2 linked regions of the Homo sapiens genome follow. The protein of the gene in region 1 interacts with the protein of each later gene in a pairwise test. Each region holds a gene or a part of one and is shown on either strand. Other genes may lie near its edges.

Evidence for each region. The genes of interacting proteins can lie anywhere in the genome.
Region 2: the proteins of EEF1AKMT3 (region 1) and ALS2CL interact in binary tests that used the Homo sapiens proteins (3 or more experiments, as listed by UniProt).

The regions. Positions count from the first base shown.
Region 1 is NC_000012.12:57,775,596-57,782,619, reverse strand, and holds the end of EEF1AKMT3 (EEF1A lysine methyltransferase 3), read right to left. Parts: intron 2,366-7,024; coding exon 1,974-2,365; 3' UTR 79-1,973; downstream 1-78. UniProt on the Homo sapiens protein: Protein-lysine methyltransferase that selectively mono-, di- and trimethylates 'Lys-165' of the translation elongation factors EEF1A1 and EEF1A2 in an aminoacyl-tRNA and GTP-dependent manner.
Region 2 is NC_000003.12:46,690,664-46,698,168, forward strand, and holds the start of ALS2CL (ALS2 C-terminal-like protein), read right to left. Parts: upstream 3,017-7,505; 5' UTR 2,980-3,016; exon of another isoform or gene 2,826-2,979; intron 1-2,825. UniProt on the Homo sapiens protein: Acts as a guanine nucleotide exchange factor (GEF) for Rab5 GTPase. Regulates the ALS2-mediated endosome dynamics.

The sequences.
Region 1 (7,024 bases):
ATTACCCCCCACCTCCCACCCCAGGTAAAATAACAGAAACCAAGAAATAAAGTCGTCACAAAACAACAACACAAGAAATGTGGGTAACATTTTATGTTTATTTTCAATGCGCATTTATATTCATTATCCATTTATGACTCACAACAAACTTGTGTGGTTGGTGAATGGGTTCGAGAATTTGTCCAAGGTCACCTAGGAAGGCAGGGGTGGAATCCATTAAACAAAGCGAGTAAATATTTATTGAATGAGCACAATATCTGTTGAACACCTGTTGTGTGCCAGGAACTGTGTTAGGCTTCAGGGGTTTAGACAGGAGTAAACCACAGCCCTACCCTCCAAGGTAATTTAATGGTGAGAAAATGAGAATCACAAATGTCCATGCAAGACAAATTAAGGTCCCATAAGATGAACCTTATGGGTCTCAGGGAGAAAGAAATCACATTCAAGCAAGAGGCTCAGGAAAGAGGCAAAGAATAATGAAGATTTTGACAGGTGGCAATAGCCTTTCAGGCAGAGGATTATCATAAAGAGTGTGAAAGAAGTCAGAAAACTTTAGTGTGGTTTTAGAGAACAAAGAGTACATCTTTTGTAATTTGGCCAGAGGTCCAATACACGTAGCAAAGGAGTAGGAAATGCAATAGGAAGGTAATTTTGGATCACATGGACACAGACTAAGTACCAAGCAGAGGAGCTTGTTCTTGCTTCTACAGGAAGTGAAAGCTAATCAGAGCTAATTTTGGAAGATCACAAGAGTTTGCGGAATGGACTGAAGGAGAAAGCATGGAAGCAGGGAGTCCAGAGAAGGTGACTATGTGCCTAAGCAGTAAGTAAAGAGAGCCCCAACCAGAAGTACCAATGTGGGAAGAGAAAAGAGGTTAAGGCAAAACACATTAGGAACTGTGTTAGGCTTCAGGGGATTAGAGATTAGGAAGGAAGGACTGATGAAGCTAAAGAAAAATCAAAGATGAAAAGAACTTAGTACTAGGTACAGTATTCTTCTGCACACAATGATGTTCCGTGATCAAGGCTCTAACTCTGGAAAGCATGAAGAAATACAGTCCAAAGGACAGCTCTGCAGCCTTAGCTTCAGAGCTAGGAGGACTTGACCCAGTTAGAGCCATGGTTCCACTAGACTCTATCTCTAAAAAGCAGGAAATGGGTGGTTTGAGGCTTCTTCCTTCTCAGCTCCTGAGTAAAAGTTGGGTTCTTGCACAATAGATTTTTAAGGCTTAATTCTTTCTTAAAAAAAAAAAAAAATCCTAGGCTAGCACAGTGGGCCATGCCTGCAATCCCAGCACTTTGGGAGGCAAGGCGGGTGGATCACTTGAGCCCAGGAGTTTGAGACCACCCTGGGCAACATGGCGAAACCCTGTCTCTACTGAAAATACAAAAATTAGCCGGGTGTGGTGGCGCATGCCTCTAGTCCCAGCTACTTGGGGAGCTGAGGCAGGAAGATCATCTGGGCCTTCAGAGGTTGAGGCTGCAGTGAGCTGTGATCACACCACTGCACTCCAGCCTGGATGACAGAGTGAGACCCTGTCTCAAAAAAAAAGAAAAAAAGAAAAAAAAATCCCACAGAATTTTTTTAAAGTCCATTCTGTGTAAACAGCAACAGGAATGGAAGTGATCAGTGACAGTCTGTCTACAATCACTGCTCTCACATCCCATATATCTCCCTTACCCCCTAAAAATCCTGGATACCTTACCATCCTCCTTCTCTGAGAACAGGAGCCAGGAACCTCCTTGGTGTTCTAACACTAGTGCTGCCAGAACTCTGGGATTCCTTGTAAGCAGGCACCTCACTGCACCTGCCCAAGAGTATCTGGGGTAACAAAGAGGGAAGGAGGAAAGTGAGAGAGGCCAGGGAAATCCATCCTTTTTGGTCCTCATGTTTGTGGCTCTGGAAATATGGTTTTTGAGATACACAGTTCCTTCATTAGAGCAAGAGATTGAGAAGAACAGCAAGGGTGATGTCAAGCAGGTCTTGGTTCCCTGTGCCTGGCCCTATAGATGTTGACATTTTCATCCTCATCCCGCTGAGCCAGCTCCAGTTGGAAATGCTGGGGCAGGAGGTGCTGAAAGAAGCTCTCTGTCCCATGCTCCTTTCTCATCTTGGAGGCCAGATAGATGGTGCCATGGGGCCTGCACAGGTGTTGGAGGGTCCCCAGCAGCAGAGGGAAGGTGGGTTCCAGGTACACGATATCAGCCCCCAGCACCAGGTCATAGTTTGCAGGGAAGACATGATGGTCAATCCCCCAGGACAAGGCACGCACCTGGGCCTGGCCTCCAGCTGGCACATTGGCCTGGACGTTGCCCTGGATCTGTTCTAGGGCCAGGGGCAGGTCAGTGATGGTAACATCCCCCCCTGAGAGAGAGGAAGGAGGAAAAATGCAAGTCAGAGGAACCAACCAAGGGTTCTTGGCTCCTGCCTGGAAGGTCCAGAGACCTCAGAGCATAGAGGACAATGTCTTGACAGCCCAGAGCCCACACTGGCTTTTAGTTGCCTCAACCTCCATTTCACCCACTGCTATTCTCATTACTCTACATTCTACAACATCAACATTCTCTCTGAGCTAATCTTCAACCTCTCTGGCCAACACACAACAATCAGATGTCAGCAGAAGCCTGGGCAGGACTAAGCTGGAGATGGGTTCTGTACCCACCCCCACTGACACAAGCTCGCCTTAAGGGTCTGGAAAGCTTCCCAGAAAATGTGACCTCAGCTGAGCCCTAAAGGACAAGTAGGAGTTAGTCAGGTGGAGCTTTCCAAGAAGAGAACAGTGAGTACAAAGGCCTGGGAGTGAAAGAGCATGGCATATTCAGGAAAGGCTGCATCTTAGAGGATGTGGAAGGGGGAGAAAAGTGTCAAGACATGAGACAAAGGGAAAGTGATTATGACATGCTAAGAAGATTCAGGTTCGATACTGAGGGCAGTAAGCTTTAAGGGCAGAAACGGGTGAAGATGGTCAGATTAGCATCTCAGAAACCTTCATTCATGCAGTAGATATAATTTGGAGAACCTTCTAAGTGCTGGGTATATAAGGTGAGCAAGACAAAAACACAGCTTTCTTTGTTTCATTCTAGAGGTAGAGACACACTAGGTACTGCATCATAATCATGATGACTATGATAGAAAGAGAAGCAAGAAGTACTAGGAATCCATTCATTCATTCATATTTATTATGTGCCTATATGCCAAGTGCTGAGAACATAATGATGAACTAAGAAGATAAGAATCCCCCCTCACAGAGCTTATGGTCCAGTGGCAAGAAACAGATGATAACAACAAACAAAATAAATAAAATAAAATACACTGTACATCAGATGGTAATATATGCCATGGTGAAGCCCCAAGCAGGGAAGGGGGATAAGAATTGCTTGAGGGATGGGGAGAAATGCAAGTTAGAGGGACCAACCAAGGGTTCTCGGCTCCTACCTGGAAGGTCCAGAGACCCCAGGGCATAGAGGACAAAGTCTTGGCAGCCTGAATGTAATTTTAAATTGAGTGGCTGGAGAATGAAATTTTAAATTGAGTGGTCAGACCAGCCTGACCAAAATGGTGAAACCCCATATCTACTAAAAATACAAAAAAATTAGCTGGGTGTGGTGGCGGGCGCCTGTAATGCCAGCTACTAGGGAGGCTGAGGCAGGAGAATCGCTTGAACCTGGGAGGCGAAGGTTGCAATGAGCCGAGATTGTGCCATTGCACTCCGACCTGGGCAACAAGTGCAAGACTCTGTCTCAAAAAAAAAAGAATGGCACACGCTGGCATGCTTTAGGAGGAGCATGCTGGCTGCTATGATGAGAAGAGTACAGGAGGGCAAGGTCAGAAGCTAGGAGACCAGTTAGGAGGTGATGGCAATGACTCAGGTGAGAGATGATGATGGTTTAAACCAGGGCAGTAGCAATGGCTAAGAAATGGTCAGATCCTGAATATATTTTGAAGGTAGAGTCAACAGGATTTGCCAATAGATTGGATATAAAATATGAGAGAGAGAGAAAAGCTTGGGATGGGCCAGGCACAGTGGCTCACGCCTGTAATCCCTTTGGATTACACTTTGGGAGGCCAATGCGGGATGACTGCTTGAGTCCAGGAGTTTGAGACCAGTCTGGGCAACATAGCAAAACCTCGTCTCTATAAAAAATACAAAAATTAGCTGGGTGTGGTGGCACATCCTGTAGTCCCAGCTACTCGGGAGGCTGAGGTCAGAGGATTGCTTGAGCCTCGGGAGGTTGAAAGTTCAGGGCTTTAGTGAGCCATGATTGTGCTACTTTCACTCCAGCCTGGGCAACAGAGTGAGAACCTGTCTCAAAAAAAAAAAAAAAGCTCAGGATGGTTTCTGGGTGTTTGGCCTGACCAACTAGAAGACCAAATTGCCACTCATTTAGATGAGAAAGGTTGCAGGAGGCGCAATTTGGACAGGAAGATCATGAGTTCATTTTCTGAGCACGTTAAGTTTGACATGGACTTCTATATCACATCAGACAACCACATGAAGATACTGAGTAGGCACTAGGTTATGCAAGCAAGTCTGGAGATAGAAATGGGATAGTCTTAGAGTCATGATCACCAACGGGGCATTTTTTTTTTTTTTTTTTTGAGATGGAGTCTCGCACTTGTTGCCCAGGCTGGAGGGCAATGGCATGATCTCGGCTCATTGCAACCTCCGCCTCCCAGGTTTAAGCAATTCTCCTGCCTCAGCCTCGCAAGTAGCTGGGATTACAGGCGCCTGCCACCACGCCCGGCTAATTTTGTATTTTTAGTAGAGATGGGGTTTCACCATGTTGGTCAGGCTAGTCTCAAACTCCTGACCTCAGGTGATCCACCCACCTTAGCCTCCCAAAGTGCTCGGATTACAGGCGTAAGCCACCGCGTCCGGCTTCAACAGGACATTTAAAGGCATGAGGTGATGGGCTGCTCAGGAGTGAGGTAGACAAGAAAAGGAGGGGATCAAAGGACTGCCCCTGAGCCCTGGGGCACTCACATTTTCAGTTGTGAAGATGAAAAAGAACCAACAAGAGAGCATGGAAAAGGAGTTCCTGCCGGTAAGCAGAAACCAGAAGTGTGGTCCCCTGGAAACCAAAGGAATTGTTCCAAGGAGGAGGGAGTGTCAGCATCAAATGCAAAGTTATCAAAGGTAGGCTGATAACTGACTCCTGCGTTTAACAACCTGGAGTTGGAAATGAAGCTCACGACCTTAACTAGAACAATTGGATTGAAGGAAAGAATAGGAGGAGAGGAACTAGACACTGAATATTAACTCTTTTGAGTTTTGTTTTAAAGTGGAGCATAGAAATGGAGTGATAGCTGGAGGGAGATGTAGGATCAAGAGTTTTTTTCTGAAATAAGAGAAATCATAGCATATTTATATGCATTTTATATTCCATATATTACTATATATGGAATGATCCAAAGAAAAGGAAAAACTGAGAATGCAGGAGAGATGGGGGTGGGTGTTGCTGGAACAATGTCTTTGAGTAGGCAGAAAGATTTGGGGTCTTGTGACAAGTGGGGGGCTTGACCTTAGCTAGCACAATGTGTTCATCCATGGTAACAGGAGAGAAGGCACTGCACACAGATGCAGATGCAGTCACATAAGTAGATGTTGTGATAAAAATATATGGACATTTTCTGAGAAAACAGAAGCAATCATTAGAGATAAGAAACAGCCCAGGTGCGGTGGCTCACATTTGTAATCCCAGCACCTTGGGAGGCCAAGGCAGGTGGATCACCTGAGGTCAGGAGTTTGTGACCAGCCTGGCCAACATGGTGAAACCCCATCTCTACTAAAAATACAAAAATTAGCCAGGCATGGTGGTGCGTGCCTGTAATCCCAGCTACTTGGAAGGCTGAGACAGGAGAATCACTTGAACCTGGGAAGCAGAGGTTGCAGTGAACCAAGGTCGCACTACTGCAGTCCAGCCTGGGCAACAGAGTGAGACTCCATCTCAAAAAATAAAATAAAATAAAATAAAATAAAGAGATAGGAAACAAAGTCATCAGGTGAGGGTGAAGATGGCAGAAGAGGCATGTGGAGGTTTGAGGAATAAGAAGGTAAGAAACAGTTGTTCAGGAGAGTGGCAGAAAAAGTGGACGAGAGAATGTACCAGGCTAGCTGGGAAGCACTTAGGACCCACCTAAGGCCAATGGTAACAAAGTTAAAATTAGCCCAGTTAGCACAGTTGTGTATGTACTGGGAGGGTCTAAGTTAGCCTAGGAGTGGGAGTGCCAAGGAGGCCTTCCCTTCGAAGTGATGTTTGAGCTGAGGAAGGAGGGATGCATATGCATTAAGCAGATGGTAAAAAGTTTCAGACAGAAAGTAAGCCTGAGTGAAGTCCCCAAGGAAGGGAACATCAGAGTAGGTTTGAGGAACTGATGGACAGGCAATAGGCAGCCCAAGAAAAACAAGAGAGAAAGAGGCACAGAAAGAGGGAGGCAGGACCTTGGGGGCCATGCCATAGGTGTTGGTTCTATCCTGAAAGCAACAAGAGGCCACTGAAAGATTTGGGGTGGGAATACATGATTACAGTTTTATTTTGAAAAGATCACTCTGACCACTAGGTGGAAGGGCAGAGGTCTAGGTGAGGACAAGGAGTCAAAGCAGGAAGACAAGTGTGGCTGTTGTAGTAGTCCAGGCAAGTGATCGTGGTGGTTTGGACTGGGGAGCTGTCAATGGAGATGGAAAAACATGAGAAGATTTAAGAAATTTTTAGGAGATAAACTGAATAATGGACATGTAGGTGAGAAAGAGGGTCGTGTCAAAGGTGATGTCTAGGTTTCCCACTGGGTGCACAGTGATTTGATTCACTGAGATAGGGAAGTCTGAGGGAGAAATGTGTTTGGTGGAGGAAGGTCACAAGATCTAGTTGGGTATGTCACACTTCCCCAGAAGAAGCTTGAAGGCCCTTGCGAAAATCCAGGCAAGAGATGCCAGTGGCCTGAACTAGAGATGCTGAAAAGATAATACTTCCCCAGACAACTGGAAGTTGTGGCCAGATCACTTGAGGCCAGGAGTTCACGACC
Region 2 (7,505 bases), on another chromosome or scaffold:
CAAGACCCGCAGACTGTCTCTCTCCTTGTCTCTGACACGCTGAGGCTTTGGAGTTAGCCAACCTGTGTGGGGCAGGGGACAAAATCAGGGCAGCCAACGATGGGCAGGTGACACAGGCAGACCCAAAAGGGTGAGTGGGAAGGGGTCTCAGCCCTCCCCTCTCCACCCTGCCCCGAGAGTGCCATGCGGGCATCCCAGGCCCCTGGCAGAGCCTACAACTCCCAGGGAATTGGCTCTGGAATGGAGTGGGGCGGGTCCCTCAGAGCTCTGGCCAAAGGCCCAGGCCAGGCATTCCTGCCCCACCTTTCCTGCTACTGCTGCTTCGAGAGGGTGAGGCTGCAGAGAGAGAGGCAGGAAGGGGAAGCCACCAGACACCCAGCTGCAGCTTCTGTGCTGCAGCTTCTTCTCCCTCTGTGGGCCCCTGAGGCAGACCCAGGCCCCCAGGACACAGGGGGCTCCAGGTCAGCTCAGGCAGACAAGGAAAGCCCAGCCAAGGGAATAGGGGTGCAGCCAGGCCCACCTAACTCTCACCCGTATCTCCCGAAACTGCTGGAATGGAAAGGCGCTTTGGGGGTGACCTTTTCACTCTCAGCTGGCAGTCAGCTGGGGTCTAAGCTAAGAGGTGAGGATATCCAAGCCTGGTTGGGAAGGTAGAAGAAAGGGTGAGGCTAGGATAGGAGATGCAGACTAGGAACCAGATCAGTGCACGTTGAAAAGATACTGCAGTAAATAACTCGCTGCTAGGAAGACTTGAACACCAACATCCCTACACTCTCCGGGGGGCCAGCACCATGACCCCAGCCGACACCATACCCTGGCAAGGAGCTCTCTGACCCTAGAGATAGCCTCTCCTCCTCAGGCTTCCTGTCCCTCGTCCCCACTGCCCAGTCTCAGCTGCTCCCCCAGGAGCAGCCCTCACCTGGCTGCTCAGCCCTGGACATGCTTCAACTTATCCACAGCCTTACTCCTCTCTGTACCTCAGCCACCCCTCTACGAAATGGGGGTTCAACCAGATCACAGCATTTTTTTCTTTTTATTTGTTTGTATTTCTTTCTATTCTTTTTTTTTTTTTTTTTTAGAGATGGGATCTCACTATGTTGACGAGGCTGGTCTCAAACTCCTAGCCTCAAGTGATCAACCCATCTTGGCCTCCCAAAGTGCTGGGATTACAGGCGTGAGCCACTGCGCCCAGCCAAAGAGGATCACAGCTTTTCAAACTACTTAAGTCTCCCCTCAAAAGGACAAACAGGTGGAAGGGGGCTTCTCTGGGTGTGGGGATCTGGTCCTTAGACTCCCCACCCCACAAAGCAGCCTATGACTCCGGGGGTGAGTCCTCCAGACTCAAGTTGGCAACTGTTAATCTGGGAGTCTTCCACATCTGTGGCCCCAAAGGGATCTATAACCCTGGGAAACTGAGTCACACCACCCAGAGGAACGGGCAGAAGTTAAGCATGGCTGGTGAGGCAGTGGGTTGGGGGAAGGCCGCAGTGGAAGCTGGGATTCTGGTTAGGTGACCCTGAGGGACCCAGCTCCCAGGCTAGGGAGTCTGGGGCTTCATCCTGGAAGTGATGAGGAGAGTGTAAGTGCAGGGGTGAGGCAGCGTGAATGTGCATGAGTGTGCACGTTTGCAGGGCAGGAGGAGGAGGTGCTGAACCTTAATATGAGGAGGATCCTGCAGGAGTACCCCCCTCCCCAACCCCTGTCCCATCCCTAACCTTCCCCCTTCCAGTCAAGGGCATAGCTTCCTCACCCTCTCCCTCCCTCCAGTTCAAAGGTTCCTTAGTGACAGGCTGTGCCTAATGTACAGATGGGGAAACTGAGGCCCAGGAACAATGGGAGGGTCCAGAGACCCTTGTGTAGAACTTGTGCAGGGCTCAGACCCAGACTTCTGGCTCCAGCCCACCAGGTTCACCTAGCTAGATGGCTCAGAGAGGGTGGGCAACTCACCTGAGGCACAGAGCAAGATCCTGACGGGCCCTGCCTCACAGCTGTCCTCAGGCAGCCCTGATGCTCACCACGGGGTGCGGTGGGGTGGGGCAGGGTGAGGACAGAACTGGCCAGTCACGGCGTGCCCAGGTGAGTCAGCGGCTGCCCCTGTGGCGCTCTAACCAGTAGCCAGACCTGGTCTCTCCTCTGCATTCCTGGCCTCTGTCCACGCTAGGTCCCTCCCGGGCAGGGTCACTGGGGCCTTCCCTGTCCTCTCCCAGGCCTGGCTCCTTAGGCCCCTGACACACCTTGTCGTGACACTCACTCACTCTGGTATTTCCTGGTCTGAACAGGCAGGGAAGTTCTGCCTGCTGTGGAGGCTTTTTCATGGGCTGCCGTGGCAGCCCCTTCGTTGTCTGGTGCCCAGTGGGGGAGAGTAGAGACACGCACTGCCCCAGGGAGGGGGCGCTGAACTGTCACACCTGATCCCTCAGTCTCATGCTCGCCTCTCCCCGCTGCACCCTTCCTCGGCCCCACCATGGCTACAAGCCTCTTGTCCTAGACAAGCACCCCTCCCTGCTGTCGCATATGTCCCAGCTTCCCTTCCTCTCCCTGCCCAGGCACACACTCAGTCGCTGGAGTTTCCCAGACCCGAGCTCCTGTTCCGGCCGCCAGGCATTTGCCATGCCGCTCCCATGCGAAAAGGCCACCTCCTGGAATCCCGGGTCGGGCCCTTCCGCCCTAACCAGCCGGCGTCACCTCCTCCTGGCAGTCTCTCCTGCTGGCTGGGGCCCCGTGGCCCTGCCACCACGGCTCAGGTCAGGCCCGGGGCGCTGCCCCGAACCCAAGCAGGCTAGCAGCCAGGCAGGGAGGACGACGCTGTGAGCGGGGTATCTTACGAGGGACTCGGACGGCCGGGGGATGACTGCCGCCGGGACCAAGGAGCTGGGCGGGGACCGCAGCAGCCGAGGAGGCGGGAGCCCCCACCTGGACGAGCTAAGCGTGGAGCGCAGACACCCGTCCGCAGACGCGCGCCCTTCGTCGCGCCCTTACCTGAGCGCTGTGGTTGCCCCGCGCCGGGACTGCCTGTGCGGCTCCTCGCTCGCACCCCCACCCTGCCCCCTGCCAGTCCCGCCCCCTGCCAGCCCCGCCCCCTTCGCCCAGCCCCGCCCCGCCCCGCCTCCGGGTGTTGCTCTGGAGTTGCGGGGGCCACGGGCGGGCCACCGAGGAGCTGGCGCGCGGTATTGATCCGTCCCGCCGCCCCAAGCCTCTCCTGAGGCCTCCCTCTGGCGTCCCCCGGGATCCGGAGGCCCCTGGGACCCGGCGCGGGGAGGAAAAGTGGGAGTCTTGACCCCTCCGCCCCCTACGCACCCACGCGCACACTCAGGCTCGCCTCTCGCGCCCCGCTTCCCCTGCAAGGCTCCGAGGCCGCCGTGCCACCACCTCGCCCCGCCAGTCAGTCGCTCTGCGAGCCTGTGGTGCAGCCCCGTGACCTCCCGGGTCTGCCCTGAGTCACAGAAGCCAGCACACGCGGAGCGCTGTGTGGGTTCGTGGAACTTGGAGCCTGTAGAGGGGTATACTGAGGCGCCCTGCGGCCCCCTGGGCTGGGTGTCCACGGCCGGCCGCCCCTCCTGTGCGACCTTGGGGAAGTCCCCTTTCCTCCCCACTCCTGAGTCTCAACAGGCCTAGTAGAGCATGAAGCCGGCCGCGTGTGCTTTGTGCGAAGGCCTGAGACCTTGGAAAGGGTGGCTGAAGACTTATCTGGGACAGACCCCCCGGGAGCGGGAGGGAACTTAGTTCAAACCTGTAACAAAGAAGCCCCCCGTCAGCAGCCTGATTCCCCCTCTGGCCACCAGGTTAGTCACCCATTGCTCTCAGTGGCACTCAGGTTCCAGTGAGGGGGAGGCTCAGGGTCCAAGGCGGCCGTGGAAGAGCAGAAAGGGTGGCCCACCAGCCCCCTACTCAGCCCCCTACTGAGGAGGTGGGAGGCATCCCCCAACCTGCCAGGCTGAAGAGACCCCCAGTGGAGGTAAGTAGGGGCCTGGGGCCTGCCAAGCTCATCCCCTGGCTCCCTTGGGTTGTTGCGAGGTGGGAGTTTACTGTCTGCCAAGCTGCACATCACCCCTTGGAGGGTTTCCAGCCTGGGACCCTTGTCTGAGTGACTGCAGGTCCCAGTGACCTCACCCTTTTGCCCCACATTGCTCTCCTCCTGGGTCCCAATCCTGCAGAGCCGCCCCTTCCTGCTTCTCCATCCCTCCCCACATTGCCAAAGCCCGCCCTAGCTCTGGCCTCCCCTTTTCCAGCCTTGTTTTCTTGCCCCCTTCTGCACCCCCTGCTGCCTGAGGGGCTCCACTCCCAAAGGCCTTGCTCCTCTGGTCCCTGCCTGCTAGAGGTGTTGCTGTGTTGGTGGGTGGGGGCTACCTCAAGGAGGCTTCTGGTGAGGTGTCCCTCTGGCCCTCTGGGAAAGCCTCCCCTCCCCATGCCCTCCACCCCCAGGCTCCGGACCTTGGCCCCCACTCCCCTTCACAGCCCTGTTGGCCTGCGGGACTGTCTGCTGGGGCACTTGGCTCCCTGAGTCTACAGCACAGCCTGGCAGAGCCACCGCCCCAGCAGGTGGAATGAACTGAGGCTTCAGGTTCTAAACAGGCCTCCAAGGTCTTCCCTGTGGGGATCCTTTGTGCCTGTGGGGCAGTGGGAGGTAGCGGTACATTCTGGAAGAGCTGGTATGGGGCCTTGTGCTGCTTTCCTCTTGCTGTGTGATCACAGGCAGTGTGTGGCCTCTCTGTAACGTAGTGCCCCTGCTGGTGAAATATCTTACCTGCGCCTCCTTCTCGGGGTTATGTGGGACTCTGAGAGGAGGGGTATGGTGGGTTCAAGGGGCTCCTTCAGGGATGAGCACGGTTTAGAGGATCTATGGGTCCCCTAGAGCATGGGTGTGGGCCACCAGGCATCCCTGGGGCTTAGGAGGGAGGCAAGGGCTGGAGAGTGGCCATGGCCTCAGGAGGAGCATATGGCCTCACCACTTGTGACGAACAGGGACAGGTGGGGCAAGGCCCCGAGCAGGACAGATCTGATCTTATGCTAGGTGTCTCTGGGCCTCACTTTCATCATCTGCACGTGCAGCTGAGGGAAGGCAGTGCTGCCTGGGCTCGAGCAGGAAGGGAAGGGCTCCCACGGCTTCCTCCCTAGAGCACAGACTTCCTGTTCAGCCACATCTAGGGGAATAGAAAGGCTGACTGAGCTCTGGGCAGCAGACCAGTCCTTCCCCCATTCCCTGGGTGACCTCATGGGCATTGCAAGCCCAGTTTTCCTATCTGCTAAATGGGGCAAGACCTGCCCAGCCTCTCTTACAGCTCATTCTTGGCTTGGGGCCAGGTAAGGCCTCTGGTAGTGCCCAAAGGACAGCCTCTGCTGAGTCCACCTGCCTTCAGTCCCCTGCAGCACAGCCAAGGGCCCCTAGCCAATCCCACCACAGATGTGTATACCCACCCACACCACTCCCACACCCGCTGCACACAGATACAATTCCACAGTCAGGGAATGGGTGGGTCCCTGTGCCACATGGACCCATCTACCATTGAACCCACTGGTAAGGACTCCAAGTTGCACAACTCTAGTGGCAGCCCTGGGTATGCGTGTGCAGATCATGTGCCCATCCACAGGGACACAGACCTGCACACTACTCCAGGGAACACACACGTATGTGAATGGCACCTGTGATTCTGGAGCCATTGAGACTCATACCCAGCCACACACAAAGCTGCATGCAGAATGCACATGCACTCCCATGTGCACCAGTGCCTTAGTACACAAAGCACATGCTCAAGCACACGCAGGTCTGACACAGGCCTGGCCCAGCCCCACAGCTATTCTGAGCTGAGCCTGGGGCTGATGAGGTCAGGGACAGCCAACTCCCAGCAGGCCCCAGCTGCTGTGGCACAGGCCTAGGCTGCCCAGCTCCCACCCCCACCCTAGGCTGAGTCCCTGGATCCTAGCCTAGCTTTGTGACTGGGGGTCCTCATTTCCTACCCCCAGCTCCCCCAGAGCTAAACTTTAAGCCCTGGGATTTCAGGCTCCAGGAGAGAACATTCCACAGGGTCCTCTGGCCACTACCCCCTGCCTTGCTCACAGCTTCCAGTTCAGAGGCCCTGGAGGCTGGACTGGGTCCCTACAGGAAACTCACAGGAGCTAAAATTAGTACAGGAGGGAGAAGCAGGGATCTGCAGACCAGCATTCACAGCACCATGTATGGAGGGGACACTGTCTTCCAGGGAGCAAGGGTGGGGGACTTGGAGTCCAGAGGTCCCCAACCCCAGATATGATGGGCCCAACTGATTTTGGGGTGCAGGGGGATGTGGAGGCCTCCTAAGAAGCAGAAACAGTACTGGACACTGAGCAGTGTCCTGGGTTGGAGGCAAAGGCTGAGGTGGAGGCCATAGTTCCTGTGTGACCTTAGGCAGGGCATAACCCCTCTATGAGCTTAAATTCCTCACTGAAAAGCCCTCAGAGATGTAAAGTCCCTCAAAGATGGGGGAAAAAAAAACCCATGTGGTGTTAGGTATTGATTTTCATCCTCGGCTACTGGCTCATAGCTCCCATTGCCCTTGTTACGGTCTTTGGCTATAATGTGTTGGGCCTCAGGGCAGGCCCCAGGAAACGGAATCTCTCTGACCTTCTCCTGCTCTGCTTTCACCTGCCCCAAGTCAGGACCCTAATTTTCCCACACCTTTCTGATTGCGAGTCTTAAGACCCTCCCCAGAGAGGGTCCTGCCCTATACTCTGGGAGGAAGGAATGCAGATGTCGTGAAGCCTCCATAAACCCCAAGAGGACAGGGTTCAGAGGGCTTCTGAATAGCTGAACGTGTGGAGGCTGGGTGGCATGCCCAGGAGGGCATGGAAGCTCCATACCCCTTCCTCCATATCTCGCCCTATGCATCTCTTCAGCTGTATCCTTCGTAATACCCTTTACAGTAAGCCAGTAAAAGTCAGTCAGTGCTTCCCTGAGTTCTGTGACCCACTCCAGCAAATTAAGCCCAAAGAGGAGGTTGTAGGAACCCCAGCGTGAAGCCAGTTGGTCAGAAGTTCCAGAGGCCAGACTGGCAACTGGTGTCTTGGGGCTGGGTGGGCAGTCTTGGGAACTGAGGCCTCAATCTGTGGGATCTGACACTATCTCCGGGTAGATCATGTCAGAATCGAATTGGAAGGCACTCAGTTGGTGTCTGCTGCTTGGCATTTAGGGAAAAAACCCACACATTTGATCACAGAAGACTTCTGTGTGGATGATTGTTGTTGTGTTGGTGTACGAGCAGAGGAAAAGATATAGTTTGAGAGAGTTTTCAAAACTACTTTAACTTTCAGGATGTTCGCCTTAACGTGGTGTTTAATACTGGAGAATTGGAAGCAATGGAAATGTCCAACAATAGGACAGAGATCCAACAAGGTTTTTTGTTTCTTTTGTTTTGTTTTGTTTTGTTTCTTTTTTTTGAGATGGAGTCTTGCTTTCGCCCAGGCTGGAGTGCAGTGGCGCCATCTCAGCTCACTGCAACCACCTCCTGGGTTCAAGCAATTCTCCTGCCTCA